Linked DNA regions of Homo sapiens: region 2 is linked to region 1. Evidence: fine-mapped expression QTL. A gene starts in region 1. The other region holds a variant in brackets. All regions are shown on one strand. Distances are from middle to middle.

Evidence for each region. PIP is the estimated chance that this variant, and not a neighbour inherited with it, causes the effect.
Region 2: its variant is the best candidate, but not a certain one, in a credible set for the expression of GMPR in whole blood (TOPMed, PIP 0.78).

The regions. Positions count from the first base shown.
Region 1 is chr6:16,232,795-16,241,849 of GRCh38, reverse strand. GMPR (guanosine monophosphate reductase) reads right to left here and starts at 3,263. Exons shown (of 9, transcript NM_006877.4): 1 at 3,070-3,263. The coding sequence starts at 3,156. RefSeq lists silencers at 3,161-3,260, 3,381-3,480.
Region 2 is chr6:16,274,614-16,282,613 of GRCh38, reverse strand. It overlaps GMPR (guanosine monophosphate reductase), which reads right to left. Exons shown (of 9, transcript NM_006877.4): 6 at 3,724-3,830. Among named protein-coding and RNA genes, the nearest start is that of GMPR, 40 kb to the right of the region's middle. RefSeq lists an enhancer at 5,002-5,296. The variant G/A (reference allele first, on the strand shown) is at 4,338.

The DNA of each region.
Region 1 (9,055 bases):
GAATCGCTTGAACCCAGGAGGCGGAGGTTGCAGCGAGCCAAGATCACACCACTGCACTCCAGCCTGGGTGACAGAGTGAGACTCCGTCTCTAAATAAATAAATAAATAAGTACATTCTTACTAGCTTAAGGACTAGAGTAGAATGTTAGAGCCAGAAATGGGTACTAAGGAAGAAAACACTCAGGGAGAATGCAGGCTCCCCAGCGTAACAGATGAAAACAAAGGTCTTGTCTCAATCCACAAACTCATCACTTCTCAGAAAAAGATTATCCAAATGTCCCCACATGACCCTGTGGCGCTTTATTCTTCCATGCCAGGGGCTGGACATTTGAGAGATGAATGCCTCCCTGGAGAATCCAGGCGAAGGCCACCTGGGCCACTGCTACCTGTATTCTTTGCCTCTCAGAGGTGACCTCAGATTCATCTCATTCATGTTCATTTATGGAAGGCTGGTGGAAATGTCCTTGCAGGAGTCCTGAAGCTTCTGAGGGGGAGATCACTCTTACTGTCCGTTTCCTGCTATAGCCTGATGATCCATTGCTGGGCCTGGCTCTTAGCAAAACTGTCACGAGGATAAGCCCATCATCAGCTGTCAAAACCCTCCTCCCTCAGCCAGACTCTACTCCCAGGGTGTACGTTCTCTTTCCTGGCTCTGTACAAATCTGCTGTTAGGCTCAATGTCGGTCATCTACCCTTCAGTTTCCAATTTGCCTCCAGATATTACTTCTGCCAGGATGCACATATTTTAAGCTTCTGATTGTGCAAGGAAAAGTTTTTATCTGCCTGTGAAAAATTTCAGGCATCAACAAGCAAACTGAGAAAACATTGAGAGGGGATTAGGGAGGCCTAACTAGATCCCTCAACGCCACCGAGGCAAGTAAAGTCAGATCATGGGGGTGGCCAGCCAGGCAGCAGCCTCACGCATCAGGGAGCTAAACCATCACGGCAACCGATTAGAAAGGCAATGCTGGTTAACCTGAGTCTCCAGGCCCGTGGCTGGCAAACTCCCACGAACATAAAAATACAAAAGAGACTCCTCAAGGGCACTGAGTTCTCACTGCAATGTGTACATGAAGATTGCAAAGATGCTATCCCAAACTGGAACATTAGTTACAATCTGCCCAAATTATGAAGCCAAGTGTTGCATGACATTGTCGCATGATGTGATAGTATTCCCCGAGAAGGAGTAATTCATTCTATTACATAAATTTCATTTTAGCTTTAGAGACAGGGTTGTCCAGGCTGAAGTGCAGTGGCACCATCATAGCTCACTGTAACCTCCAGCTCCTGGGCTCAAGCCATCCTCCCGCCTCAGCCTTCCAAGTAGCTGGGACTACAGGTGAGCACCACTGCCCTAATTTTTTAAATTTTTGTTGTAATCTCCAGCTCGTGGGCTCAAGCCATCCTCCCGCCTCAGCCTTCCAAATAGCTGGGACTAGAGGTGTGCACAACTGCCCTGGCTGATTTTTTAAATTTTTGTAGAGCTGAGGTCTTGCTTTGTTGCCTAGGCTGGCCTCGAACTCCTGGCCTCAAGCAATCCTTCCACCTCAGGTTCCTAAAGTGCTGGGATTACAGGTGTGAGCTACTGTGCCTGGCCCTATTACATTAATGTTCAATATTTTACCTTCTCAACATGTTTTCTGGTTCAGAAAATAGGTATATCTTTGTTTTGAACATCCAATTTTCTGAAAAATGAGTTTCTCTCTTCTAAATACATTTTGAATATTTAAAGAATATTGAGGCCACCAAATTATTAGCACATCCAGAATCCCCCTATTTCATCTTGGTCTTGCCTTAGGAATTGGCTACAGCTCATGCTTCCAGAGGCCCAGGCCTGCCCTCCAAACTGTTTTTGTTCCAAGAGAGGCCCCCTCTTTAGCACCTGAAAGGTCATGAGGGACAGGCACAGGGTCACCCAATCTGGGGCGATAAGTTTTAATCATTCCTCCCCTACGTCCTCCAGTCCTGCCGGGCTCCAAACCAGCCAATGCTGCTGCTTACAGAAGGCCACTTGGTTTAGTCATTGGCTAACGCGGAGGCTTCCCCAATCCAAGCAAGCCCTCGGCTGGCAGCCCCAGGCACTGCAGTTAGGCCTGGCACCGGAGTGGGCAGCGGACTTCTTTGCTGAGGGGATTTATTTATGGTCTTGTTTGTGGAGCTGAGTGGACGGAGCTGTGCAGGTTGGCCCAGCCTCCTCGTGTTTACTCCTTCAGCCCCAGCCTTCAACCGTGTCCGGTTTCCTCACCTTCCTCTCCAGCTCTCAGCAAAGCCAGTCACCAGCGCACACCACCCCGGGGCACTCTGCCTTTCAGGCAACTAGTTTATCCTTCAGGGACTGGCCTCCCTTCCCCCAGCCTCAGGCTATTTCCAGTCCGGTCTCCACCTGTTCCTTAGGATTTGAGGACATCCAGGCAGAACCAGGGAAATGCCCGAGGCTTCCAATTCGCCCCCACCTCTCTCACCCCAAAGCTTTCGAAACTCTTCTCCAGGGCTAGGCTGGGACCGCGGGCTGTCCAGTACCGCTGAGTCCCCAAGCCCCACTGCCAGCAAGGCCGCCAAACTCAGAAAGGAAACCCTGAACTTGTGCCCTGGGTTCTGGTTTTTCAGACGCGTTCACGAAGTTCCACCGCTGGACCCGAAGCGAAAGCAGCAGCAATTATCAGCACTAGGAGACGCAGCCAAAAATCACCGGGATCTGCAGTTGTTTTTCTCGTCCTCTCTCCCCTAGCTCCAGTTTCCTTTTCTTGCTATAAGCGCCCTCGTACCCCTATTCCTTCTAAACCAACTGGCCACTGGATCTCGCTCATCTGTGGTCGAGTTTCACTGTGAACTTCCCCTAGGCCACCCAACGGGACCGACGTGTAGAGAATTTCATGGGCCCCCGTATCACCGCCCTTAAAGACACCTCACGTCCTGGCAGGTGCTGGGGCGCGGGAACGGGGGCGCAGCGCCCCAGTCTCAAACACCAAAGCAGGCAGGGTAACCCGGTGCCACCCCCTTCCACCCACTTGCCCCGCGCCACCCGGAAAAAAAAATCCCACCCCACTGCGACTTCCGAACGTCCCCCACCTCGGCTCGGCTCTTGAGGCTGCTCCGCTTAGGTCGGAGCAGGACATCCTTGAAGTCGAGCTTGAGGTCCGCATCTATGCGGGGCATGGTGCAGCGGCTCCTGGCTGCGGCGGCGGCGACGGCGGGGCGGGGGCGCCTGCGCGGGGCGGCGCGGGGAGCGCCGGGGCTGCTGTGCCGCGGCCGGGAGCTGGCGTGGGCCGGGTGCGCACGCCGCGGTCTTAAACACGCCCCGCCGACCCGCGGTCACGCTTGGCCCGCCCCGGGCACCGCCTCCGCCTCAGGCAGGGGTTGAGAGGCAGACTGGTTAGGGACAGATTGGCGGCGAAGCCCTTCCTCCTCGCGCCGCCGCCCCCGTCCTTCCCCCTCAGGTGTACAGCCCGTGGCAGTGACCGAATGGGGACGGGGGAGGGAAATGCGCACCGTTCTGTTTGTCCCCAGGGTCCCCGATGGAGAGGGGACTTAGCGTGTGGCTGCCTTATCCAAGGGAAAAGTCGCTCCCTGAGAGCTTTTACTTTTTTTTTTTTTTTTTTGAGACAGTCTCACTGTCGCTCAGGCTGGAGTGAGTGGCGCTATCGCCGCTCATCGCAGCCTCGACTTCCTGGGCTCAAACGATTCTCATGCCTCAGCCTCCTCGAGTACAGGCGCACGCCGCCACACCCAGCTTATTTTAAAAATTATTTCCTAGAGGCGGGGTTTCACCATATTGCCCAAGCTGGTCTCGAGCCCCTGACCTCAAGTGATCCGCCTGCCTCGGCCTCCCAAAGTGCTGGGATTACAGGCGTGAGCCACCGTGCCCGGCGGATTCTCCTTTTTTAAAATTCAAGCCCGGTGTGCTCACCCAGTGTTGAGGAGCACGTCTCTCACTTGCCAAAGAACCAGAAACCCCAGGGAGGTTGTATAGAATTAAGGAAAAGAACGTGGGCAGTTAACTGTTTAGCTGTACTGGGATTGTGGAGGCCATGATTCCCTTTGGACTTGTTGTTAAGAGACAAGGTCTCACTGTGTTGCCCAGGCTGGTCTTGAACTACTGGGTTCAAGCAATCCTCCCGCCTCAGCTTCCCAGTGTTGGGACTACTGGCGTGAGCCACTGCGCCCAGCCTGGATTTCAGGATTTTTGTTTAAGAAAAACAGTGAGGTCTGTAGTCGACGCAGATCCTGAGATTTGAGGAGCCTGAGTCCCCTCTGAGGGTTACCAGTGATGTGAGTTCGAGGGGTTACCAGTGATGTGAGTTCATTGATTCACTTATTGACCTTACCGACCTTTTATTATACATTTGAAATGTGCTGCCGGGCTTCATGCATCATCTCATTCACTCTCAGAACAACCCAATGAAGAAAGAGCCATTTCACAGATAAGGAAAAACGAGGCTTCTATAAATGAAATAACTTGCCTAAGGCCGCAGAAAAATTCAATATAAATTTCTCAGTCCTTAAAACTTGCTACAACTATTCACTGAAGCTGCTTTTGTCCTGGAACATCTCTGCCTGAGTTTGAAACCTGGTTCCACCACTGTCTAGCTAGGTGACCTTAGGGGAGTCAATTTCTCTAAGTCTCAGTTTTCTCATAAAAGGGGTGGGGGCAGGAGGGGGGGTTAACCCTATCTCCTCCCTGGTTTTTGTGAGAATTAAAGTGTGTGTGTTTATGTAAGCACAATGTCTGTCCCATAGTAGTTGCTCAATGCATGGTAGTTACAGATTTGTAGTCACATGTTACATTATGTGCATTGTGTTTGTATTTTCAAACTAGAATGCTAACTGCACAAAGGCAAGAATCATCTTTCATTCTCTTCCATTTTTCTGCAGCCTCGAACTGAGCTAGCAACTGTTCTCCTTGAGCTAGCATGTGATAAGGCTGACCATAAAAGATACATCACAATATTCAATTTAACACAAATGTCTGAAGATGATAAAGGTCTCAGCCCATCCCACATGGTTTCATTAGCTATACCCCAAAGGAAGTTCATGAAGTTTCAGGGAAGGAAATGAAACTTATCAGAGAGAATGAAAGTAGCCACAATTAGTCCAGCCCATGCAATGTTTATAACCCTTGACGAATTCTTGGGAGCTGGCCAGATGTGCTGCTTATTTGTGAAGTACGGAAAGGAAACCTAATTCTGATCTTTTAAAGATTAAATAGAGGTAAAATATAATTACTAGATGGTATGATTATTTTTAAATTATTATCCTTAAAGGGAAGAGAAACTGACCTTGTTAAGCATCTGCCAGCGTGGATGAGGGCTTTATTCATTGTTTCATACATGGTCTTAAAGGAGAAGCTTCTGTAGGTTGTCCTTGCTCTTTCCCTCTGGTTCTCTTTCTTTCTGGCTAGCCCTCCTTTTATTAGAATAGACAGAGAAGTTCATTTTACACATTCCATTCCCTCTCCCTCTGGAACATTCCTCTATAACTGCCCTCTTCTCTGACACAAAATCATACTCCTGTTAGAGTCAGCCTGAGTCCCTGATTCTTCTAAAACCGGCTTTGCAAAAATTATGACAGTGAGAAAAATCTGACATAGGAAAATGACAACAGTGAAAGAAATCTGACCTAACTGACTCCATCTTGCTTTTAACCGCCAAGGTGTCCTTGTTCATTCCTGGGTGTAGGTTGAACTAACTATGGGAGGAATTGAGTTTATAGTTTAACTTTGAAACAAAGATGAGAACAGCACGTTCCCAAAACAAACCCCCTCCTGGCTTGGGGACCAGCGCACCTTTGTAAAACTAACAAAGTAGCTACAGATTACAAATCATGGCTCAGGCATCATGTAGCCAGAGGCCATAAGATTCCCAACCTCCCCAGTTGCTCCTATGAATAACATCACTATTGAAAACCTAAGATTGGTGTTAGAGATATGTTTCAGTCAGTCCCCCCATTCTGATGGACCAGCTGGCACCACCCTGACCAGTAAACTGGCTCAGCTAGTTCTGTGATCCCACTCGGAAACGGAAGACAGCAAGGAAAACCCACTTCAACAGCCTATTATTTCATCCCTTACCTGACCAATCAGCATTCCCCACTCCCTAGTTCCTGCCCACCAAATTATCCTTAAAAAAGCCTGGTCTCTGAATTTTTGGGGAGACTGATTTGAGCAATAAAACTCCAGTCTCCTGTTAGCTGGCTCTGCATTTATTAAACTCTTTCTGTATTGCAGTAATGCTGTCTCAGTAAATTGGCTCTATCTATGCAGCAGGCAAGAAGAACACATAGGGCAGTTCCACTCCCACACCAACTGAGACTCCTTTCAACATCCTCTGCTTCTCATTACTCTAATACAACAATAATAGTTTCCCATCAGTACAATGACTTTATGTTAAAGTTTTCACTGTCTAGACAAAGCCATAAGTGATATCCAGAGTTCAATTTATTAACATTTTATTATGGGAGGGGAGGGTTATCCCCAAAATTACATGGGAAGATAACCTCCAAAATTATGTGGGATAAATTCCACTTGGTCACAGTGCATAATCCTTTTTTGTATTGATGGATCCTATTTGCTAATATTTTGTTAAGGATTTGTGCATCTGAGCTTATAAGGGACATTACTCTGTAGTTTTCTTTTCTTTTGATGCCTTTATCAGGGTAATAGTGGCCTCATAGAATTAGTTGGGAAATGTTCCACGCTCTGTTTTCTGAAAGAGCTTGTGTAGGCTTGGGATTAGTTCTTTAAATATTTAATAGAATTAACCAGTGAACTAAAATTATGTGAAGTGATAAAATGGTTTATTTTTAGTAAATAAGTATCTCTCAAAACCCAGAAATAAAGTTAAGTATTAAAGGCTTTTTGATAATTCAGAATTATAGTATTTAATATTAAGGGATAAGAGCAAATCTGGAGGCATCACACTACCTGATTTCAAACTATACTATAAGGCCATAGTCACCAAAACAGCATGGTGCTGGTACTGGTATAAAAATGGGCACATAGACCAGCGGAAAACAATAAAGAACCCAGAAATAAACCTACATACCTACAGCCAATTGATCTTCAACAAAGCAAACTAAAACATGAAGTGGAAAAAGGACACCCTTTTCAACAAATGGTGCTGGGATAATTGGCTAGTCACATGTAGGAGAATGAAACTGGATCCTCATCTCTCACCTTATACAAAAATCAACTCAACATGGATTAAGGGGCCGGGTGAGGTGGCTCATGCCTGTAATCCCAACACTTAGGGAGGCTGAGGCAGGCAGATCATCTGAGGTCAGGAGTTTGAGACTAGCCTGGCCAACATGGTGCAACCCTGTCCCCACTAAAAATACAAAAATTAGCTGGGCATGGTGACACCGGTCTGTAGTCCCAGGTACTCGGGAAGCTGAGGTGGGAGAATTGCTTGAACCCGGGAGATGGAGTTTGCAGTGAGCCGAGATTGGGCCACTGCACTCCAGCCTGGGCGACAGTGTGAGACTCCATCTCAAAAAAAGAAGAAGAAGGTGGATTAAGAACTTAAACCTAAGACCTGAAACTATAAAAATTATAGAAGATAACATTGGAAAAACCCTTCTAGACATTGGCAAGGATTTCGTGACCAAGAACCCAAAGCAAATGCAATAAAAAAAAAAGATAAATAGCTGGGACCTAATTAAACTAAAGAGCATGGCAAAGGGAACAGTGAGCAGAGTAAACCGACAACCCACAGAGTGGGAGAAAATTCACAATCTATACATCTGACAATGGACTAACATCCAGAATCTACAACAAACTCAAACAAATCAGTAAGAAAAAGACAATCCCATCAAAAAGTGGGCTAAGGGCATGAATAGACAATTCTCAAAAGAAGATATACAAATGGACAACGAACACACAAAAAAATGCTTAACATCACTAATGATGGGGGAAATGCAAATCAAAACCACAATGCGGTACCACCTTATTCCTGCAAGAATGGCCATACTCAAAAAATCAAAAAACATTAGGTGTTGGTGGCTGGGCACGGTGGCTTGCACCTGTAATCCCAGCACTTTGGAAGGCCAAGGCAGGTGGATCCAGACCATCCTGGCTAACACAGTGAAACCCCATCTCTACTAAAAATACAAAAATTAGCCGGGCGTGGTGGCACGTGCCTGTAGTCTCAGCTACTCGGGAGGCTGAGGCAGAAGAATTGCTTGAACCCGGAAGGCAGAGGTTACAGTGAGCAGAGATCACGTCACTGCACTTCAGCCTGGGTGACAGAGTCAGACTCCATCCTAAAAAGAAAAATGAAAAAAAAAAAAAAAACAATAGATGTTGGTGTGGATGCGGTGAACATGAAACACTTCTACACTGCTGGTGGGAATATAAACTAGTACAACCACTATGGAAAACAGTGTGGAGATTCCTTAAATAATTAAAAGCAGAACTACTATTTGATCCAGCAATCCCACTACTAGATATCTACCCAGAGGAAAATAAATTATTCGAAAAAGATATTTGCACACACGTTTATAGCAGCACAATTCACAATTGCAAAAAGTGGGCTAAGGGCATGAATAGACAACCTACACTACAACCTCCACCTCTCGGGCTCAAATGATTTTCCTGCCTCAGCCTCTGGAGTAGCTGGAACTACAGGTGTGCTCCACCATGCCCGGCTAATTTTTGTATTTTTAGTAGAGACGGGGTTTCACCATGTTGGCCAGGATGGTCTTGATCTCTTGACCTCGTGATCCGCCTGCCTCGGCCTCCCAAAGTGCTGGGATTACAGGTGTGAGCCTCCGCACCTGGCCAGCCAGCTTACTTTTAAAAACTGGGAGGCCTAGCAGGGTGTTCATCCCCTCAGAGGTCTGCCATCTGCTAGAGTGAATCAATGTTGTCTCTTTAGATGGGGTGGATGGGTGATCTCTAATGCATAAACCTGACTCGACCCTCCTGGCACATAAACAGTTGTTTAAATTTGCCATCCCTGATGGACAATACACACTGAGAATAATGCCTCGCTTTTCCAGCTCAATTTTTGCAGAGAAAGTAGATATAAATTCAATTTGCTTGTCTCTTGGGGCAGGAAAA
Region 2 (8,000 bases), 41 kb before region 1:
CTCATGAACCTGAAGGAGATATTGCGTAGACGGCGGGGACGGTGGAAAGAGGCTCAGAAAGGTTAAGCAACTCTCCTAAGGTCACACAGCTATAAAAATGGAAAAACAAGTTTAGAACCAGTGGTTATCTTAAGATGATAGCATTACTGCTAATACTTATTTTCCTTTTTATGTTTATTTGCATTTCTAACTTTTCCTAGGTTAAACACATTTTGCTGGGAAAATTTTCCAGACTCAAAAAAAAAGATTAATTATTTGAATGAATTTGTTTAGGTATTTCTAAATAATGGTGTGATAACAAAAAATTAACTGGTCCCACCTTAATCTTCACCTATGCAGGAAGTATCCTGAATTTTTCCTCCCTCTGCCTCTCTGAAGCCCATGTGGGCCACAACAGAAACACGACTGAAGCCCAGCCTCTTGGGTATCAGTACATGCTCAACAGACACCATGTTGTGGCTTCCTTTGAACTTCAATGGCACCAGTGTGCTAATTCAGCAAATAAAGGGTAAAATGGGACAGCTGGAAGGAAATTGGACCAAGTGGCAGGATCCAAAACACCTGGTGGGTTTCTAGCAGGTTCAGGGCTACTGGCAAGTGACAGAAACGTGCCCGTGCCCTGTTAGACAAAGGGAGTGTGGGGGCAATGGCTGCTCTGAACCTCAAGACACTCAGCTGCTTACAAGGACTGAGCTGAGGGCAAAGGTCCAAATTCTACTAAGTCCATTCATTTGCTTTTCCAGCTAAATGGAACTCCTAACCCCATCTAGGAGACCTCTCAGCATTGACGTAAAAGGAAACTCGGAGGCCGGGCACGGTGGCTTACGCCTGTAATCCCAGCACTTTGGGAGGCTGAGGCGGGCGGATCATGAGGTCAGGAGTTCGAGACCAGCCTGGCCAGCATGGTGAAACCCTGCCTCTACTAAAAATACAAAAAAAAAATGGGCTGAGCGTGGTGGCGCGTGCCTGTAATCCCAGCTACTCGGGAGGCTGAGGCAGGAGAATCGCTTGAACCCGGGAGGCATTCTAGCAGGGAGCTGAGATCATGCCACTGCACTCCAGCCTGGGCGATACAGCAAGACTCCATCTCAAAAAAATAAAAAATAAATAAAATAAAAAAGTAAAAACTAAAAAGAAAAAAAAGAACCTCAGAGAACACAAGCAAGATCAGAAGTGCTACCTTCCTATTGCACCAGTGCCCCAGGCTTGGGATGTCATTGTCCCTAACTGTTAAATTCAGAGAAGTTGCTGCCTTGGGCACCAGCAGATGAGACCTGGTTCAGGAACACTCACCCCGCCAGCGTATGCTGAGCCTCTACTCTATAAGCCAGTGGGTCTCACACTTGAGAGGACATCAGAACTACCTGGAGGGCTCGTGTTTAAACAGGTTCCTGGGCCTCACCTGCAGAGTTCTGATTCTGTAGGTCACGTCGATGGTGGGGCCCAAGAATTTGTAACAAGTTCTCAGTTGATACTGCTGCTGCTGGTCTGGGCACCACGCTTAAGAGAACTGCTGAGATACACTATAAATTAGGTGGTGCTGTGTAAAGAGATGCTAAGTTGATTTCCAATCAGATTCACCTCTGGGGCACACAGAGCCTCCACCCCACCCTGCCTACCACCAATCTTTGGCCAAACAGCCCTGTAAACTAAGCAAGTTTGAAGTTTCTAGAAAGACATAAGGATCTCAGAATATGTTCAGAGTAAAACTTTATTAATCAGAACTCCACTACTTTGGAAATAGTGGTCATTCAACACTTACGATATAGGGTCCAAGTTTTGACTTGATGGAGATGCTCAATGGTTAACATTATTAGGTAATGGAGACAGGACTAATTACATATGGGGATTTTGGGGACTAACCTCTGAAAGAGCCAGTTCACTAGGATGGGGTCCCGGAATGTTGATTTGTAAAAGCCTCTCTGGTGATCCTCACGCAGCCAGACTCAGACAAGGCTGCACTCAGGATTTGAGAACCACTGACATACTGCGGAATGGTACTACTGCCTGGCCGCTCCCGTGAGTTGAATAACCTCTTAGCAAATGTAGACCGACAGTTCTATGTCAGCCTTTTACACACTAGTTGCTCAATAAATGGATATTAATTTGTTCACTGGGGCAAAGGGTATTGAGTGGAGAGTCTTAGAACTCTGTCATTAACCAATAAACCTTTGACCATTTATTTCAGATACTATCACAGTAGATGCTTAATAGAGACTTGCTGGATGAATGGATGGGTGGGTGAAAAATTTGGATGAGGCATTAGAAGGGGCCCAGGCAATCTGCACTGGACAGCGAGTGAAAGACCTTGATCCTAGCTTCAGTTGTTACCTGAGCACCATTCCCAAGACTTTCATCATCTATGGGCTAAAAGCTGCCAGGTCTCCAACTATGAACACAATGCCTCATGTGCAATTTCCCTTCTGATGCCCCTCAAGCACCTCAGAATCAACAGACACGTGCCATAGTGATCACCACACCAGCCCCGAACCTCTTCCTTTGCAGCCATCTTCCAGGTGAGCCAGCACATGAGCCAGCCACAGCCTTGCTCCTCCTTCTCCTTCTCCAGTGCCCCCCAAGCACCTACTCCATTGCCGACACTTGTTTAATTCTGCCTCCCAAATGTCAGTCAATTCTGGAGATGGCTCTCAAGCCTGCTGCAGAGCACAGTCACCTCCCCCTCCTGAATTACTAACGCGTCCCAGCTGGGCTCTCTTTTTTATTTTGCCCCTTTCAATCTGACCCAAGGCAGTGAGTTGGGCACTCTCCTACTCAGACCTCTGCAATAGCTCCCTAGTGCTCTTGGAGAAGTCCCATCCTTAAAGGTGGATCCCACAGCTCTTGTCCATACTTGCCCTCAAGCTTATCTCCTGCTGCCCCTCACGCCTGCCCCTCTCAGGTCACTCGCCCCAGATGCAGTGACTGAGATTTGGTTCCCCAGTGCTTTTCTGTTCCCTTCTTTCTTCTCATCTGAAAACTTCCTTTTCAACCATCAGCTCTCTCTATTACACTCCAGGAAACCTTCCCTGACCCTGAATATGGGATACGTGGCCTGTTATGGGTTGAACTGGGTCCCCCCAAAAACTCGCATGTTGCCATCCTAACCCCTAGCATCTCAGAATGTGACCTTATTTGGAAACAGGAACAATGGACACGTCATCAGTTAAGATGCGGACATCCTGGAGGAGGGTGGCCCCTGATCTGAAAGGACTAGTATCCTCAGGAAAAGGGGATGTTTGCACACAGAGACACACACACAGAGGACGCCACAAGCTAAGGAACCAGCAGAAGGTCACAGAGAGGCCTGCAACAGATCCTTCCCTGGGGCCCTGAGAGGGAGCATGCCCCCCCCAACACCCTGATGTTGGGCTTCTCGTCTCCAGAATGGTGAGACACTGAAATTGAAGCCCCCAGTCTGTGGGGCTTTATTACAACTGTTCTAGCAAGCTGTGGCCTGGCCTACCCTGTGCTCTGAAAGCTGCCTGCACATCCCTCATCAGATGGACCACCCACCTGCTTGTATGGCTTCTGCCTACTGGGCCTGCCACCCTCACTGTGGAATCCGTGGGCAGCAGGGCCTCTGTTTCTGCTGAATGTCAGCGCTGTGACCGCAGTGCCCAGCTCCCTCCCATGCCCACAGGATGCCCAGCCAGTGAAAGAAGAGCAGCGAGGGAGCAGGGGCCTCCCAAGACACCCCAGCCTCAGCCCCGGGTGGAGACTCACAGAGATGATGTGGCCCTTCAGGCCATGGGCAGAGTCGGCACACTCAATGACGGCACTCAGCTGGGGGTACCCCACTCCCGTCTTGGTGCGGGTGGTGCACACAGAACCTGCACAGAGAAAGAAGTTGTCCCCAAATAGATGGTTATACATGAGAAGACTGTGACATGAAATGCGTCCCCCTTACCTTTGCAGCCCTGCTTTAGGGACCAGGGTGAACCTCTGTGGCAGAGGAGATGTGGGGAACAGGCTGCCCCATCTGCACGATGGAGGTCACTGTAAACCACACCACCTGGTCATGCACCCCCTCCGGTCCTCATCACTGTCACTGGCTGATGTCCCAGACATCGCCTTCCCCTCTACCATGCACCTGTCACTGCCACTCCTCCCTGTGGCACTGGCTCCCATGCAATAGCCAGGCACTGACCTTTCCACACTTAAACACCCACTCCTTTCCACCTTTCTACAAATCTACACTCTGCTTTAAAGGACCTCTCAGAATCCTCCCACTGGCTCGTAGCTTCTTTACCTTCAACCTTTGTCAAATGACTCACCTCTCTTAAGCCTCACTGCCCGGCCTGTAAAATCCAAAGAGAAACACAACCTCCTGGGGTTGT[G/A]GCAGAGAACAAATGGCACAGGGAGGGATACCGCTTGGCCCAGGGCCTGGCCTGCAGCACGACACCCTCCATACCCTCACCTGCTCTCACTCAGCTCTGTGCTCCACAGGGCCCAGCTGTTTGTCCATCTCCCTCCTGGCTGCCCCACCTCAAGTCCCTTGCAGCCTAGCCCGAGGTTCACTTCCAGGCCAGGGCTCACACCAGCACCCTCCTGCCTGCCTGTCCCACGGTCAGCCCCAGTCCTGGTTGTTCTCCCAGTTAGGTCCAGGCCAAGTCGCACTCTGACCTCTTTATCATACCTCCCCTTATTCAAGCTTCCCGGTGCCGCCACAGCACCCCACTTTACCCAGATCAGCAGAATCAAGCTCCACCTGCTCCCCTCCCTCCCCACTGCTTCTCCAATGGGGCAAGTTTCTTCCCACCTTAGGGACTCTGTACACAATGTTCTCTCTCTTGGACACTCCCCTCTGTACCAGCCCGCCTAGCCAAACCCTTCTCATCTTTCCAGCTTCTTCTTAAATGTCACTGCCCCAGGGGAGTTGTTCATCACAGTTTCAAAAAGAGGCATTTCAATCAGGATCTGTGTGAGAATGTTAAGGGTCTGTCTTCTGTACTGGGTGGTCGGCTCCGTGGACATTCGCTGTTGTTATCAGGTGCTGAGAACAGAGCCTCATATACAATAAGGCACTATAAATAGTCACTGAAAGAATGTGTGGACTCAAGAATGAATGAGTCACCCACATCCCTGTCTCCACTGCCACTCACTCAGCCCCTCCCGGAGGTCTTGTGGTGTGCACGAGAGGGCGCTCTGGGGACAGGGTAAAGGTGGAAGTGAACTCCTCCCTCCCACCAGACCCGGGGGTGGGATGCTTTGAGGCGCAGCCTAATCTCCGGCTCCTGGCCGGCACCACCTTGTAGGATGCTAATTTCTGCCAGGGGTCTTTAGGGACAAGATCAGACAGAGAAGTATGTCTGTGTCCCCAGGCCTGGATTTAGCAGAGAAACCAGGAGAGACAGGGCAAGCCCCTCTCCTGCATCAGCTGTGGGGCAGAGTCCACAGAAGTCCTGTAGCTCCCTGTGTCCTGCTATGTGTCACTCACAGTCCTGGAGCCAAGAAGTCTCATTCCCACGAAGGCGCCTTCCCCCCGCCCTGCAACCAGACGTTGTGCACGGCAGAATAAAAGGTTTAACCCCCGGTTCAGCCTCAGCTTTTCTCCTCCTCTCCCATTGAATTGCTAGATCCGGGGGTGGGGGCCTCAGCTGCAGTAGGCCTGGGGTTCTGATAGTAGTGAGGGCTCTATAAAGGGTAGACCAATTGCCTTTCTTGGAAACAGCCAAGGAAGAAGCTTCAAATAACACACAGGCGGTTCTGATTAACACCTAGGTGAAAGAAGAAGTTGGTGCATACTTTCTCTTGACTAGAGGGGCAGGGAATCCGTTTCTGATGCTTTTTCCCAGTTCCCAGGAGTTGCTCAATAATGAATGAAATCTATCAATCAATAGACATCCAATAATGCTATCATTTAGATATGTAATATGCAATGTTTTTACCATAAAGAATGTGTGAGACTTAAATATGGTCTCCAAACAATTTAAAGAAGTAGCTCCCATGCATTGGGCTCAGAGAAAGCCCCTTATTCTCTTTAGTCACATCTGTCCTACACAGACAGCCAGAGGGGTGGGGAGATACAGTGAGAGCAGAAGGACAATACAGCTTCTGGGGAAATAGAATGCAGACACAGAGATGTGCAAGAAGAAAACAAGTGTAGTAAATGTTCGAGACCACATCTAGAAAAGCTTTGAGAGGGCCGGGTGTGGTGGCTCACACCTGGAATCCCAGCACGTTGGGAGGCCAAGGCGGGTGGATCACCTGAGGCCAGGAGTTCGAGACCAGCCTGGCCAACATGGTGAAACCCCGTCTCCACTAAAAGTACAAAAAATTAGCTGGGCATGGTGGTGCATGCCTGTAATCCCAGTTACTCAGGAGGCTGAGGCAGAAGAATCACTTGAACCTCTGAGGCGAAGGTTGCAGTGAGCTGAGATCACACCACTGCACTCCAGCCTGGGCAACAGAGCAAGACTGTCTCAAAAAAAATAAAGCTTTGAGAGCCAAGAAGCTTCTCACACACCTTCACATCCTGTACAGCACCCGCCCAACACAATGGTAGCCAGTGAACATTCAATACATATTTCCTTTTTTTTTTCTTGAGACAGGGTCTTGCTCTATCACCAAGACTGGAGTGCAGTAGTGCGATCTCAGCTTACTGCAACCTTCACCTCCCAGGATCAGCTGATCGTTCCACCCTAGCCTCCCAAGTAGCTGAGACTACAGGTGCATACCACTGTGCCTGACTACTTTTTAATTTTTATCTCCTATTTTTAGTAGAGACAGAGTTTCACCATGTTGCCCAGGCTGGTCTCAAACTCCTGGGCTCAAGCGATCCACCCACCTTGGCCTCCCAAAGTGCTGGGAGACCAGGCGTGAGCCACCACATCAGGCCCATATTTCTGATTAAACAGGTGACTAGTGAGTGTCCCTGCCTTTGGGACTAAAAAGAGTCTTCCTAATCTATTAGCCTATTTTGTTCTATTATCAGTCTGTCTATTACAGCCTGCCCTAAGAGGAGGCAGCCTGGAAAGGAAGAACGAGGCCTTATCCTTTCTTGCCTTTTCAATAATGGTAGATACTCAGTAAAGACCTCTTCCCATTTGCTCAGAATACATTATTAACTGGCTTAAATGAGTGGCAATATGAAAAACTTAACCTTGAAAATCTCCCTGTATGTTAAAAGCTTGGGTATTTTTACGAATCTACAGGGTTCTTCTTCCTAATATTCTCTTCATACACATCCAATTCCCTCAGGCTGATCACGGAGCCAAGTCACAGCTCAACAGCGTCTCCTGCGCCTCCCAGCTGTGCGTTTTCCCACAGATTCCTCTCATATTGGTTTAGGTTTGCTTCCTTTTTTGGTAGTGTCATTTGGGTATGAGATTCTTTTGAAAAATCTTTGCTGTTTTTCAGTCCCAAGTGAAAATGTGTATATTCTTTCTTGCTCCTCAATTTTAGTGTCTGGTTAATACTGGATGTGCACGGATGAATTTAAAACATGGCAGCTCATCTTCAAGCAGGGCAAAGAAGGAAAGCGAACAGTAACCCTGCCCCATGAGAAAATGGCGCCACCCATGACAAGGACAGAAGGCTCTACCTCGTTCTTCTGCTTAAGATGCCAATGGGTGGTCCTAAGAAAGCATGCCTGGGAGAAGAACATGGGCAAAATCTACATCTAATACGTATCAGGTGAGTAACCAAAGGTGATCATTACCTAGGCCATGGGTCAAGTTTGAATGTGGCCTCATCACTGCAAGCTTATTTGCAATGTTTGGGGTCCCTCAAACATTCACATAAACTGGAGTCATTCATGTTTATTAACTGTCTCTATGGATTCTTCACCTATCGCCTTCCTCTGCAAGGTGTATGGGGTCATTAGTGAAATCTACATTCTTCCACATTGGTTCTGAAACCAAGCCCTCATATTCTGACCACATCCATATATTCTAACCATAATTTAGAAAATCCCTGGGGGCATCAAAAAGCAGCTCAACAATACTTTTCATCAGGGGCTTCCCCGAGAAGCTCAATTATGCTTCCAGAAAAAGCATGCT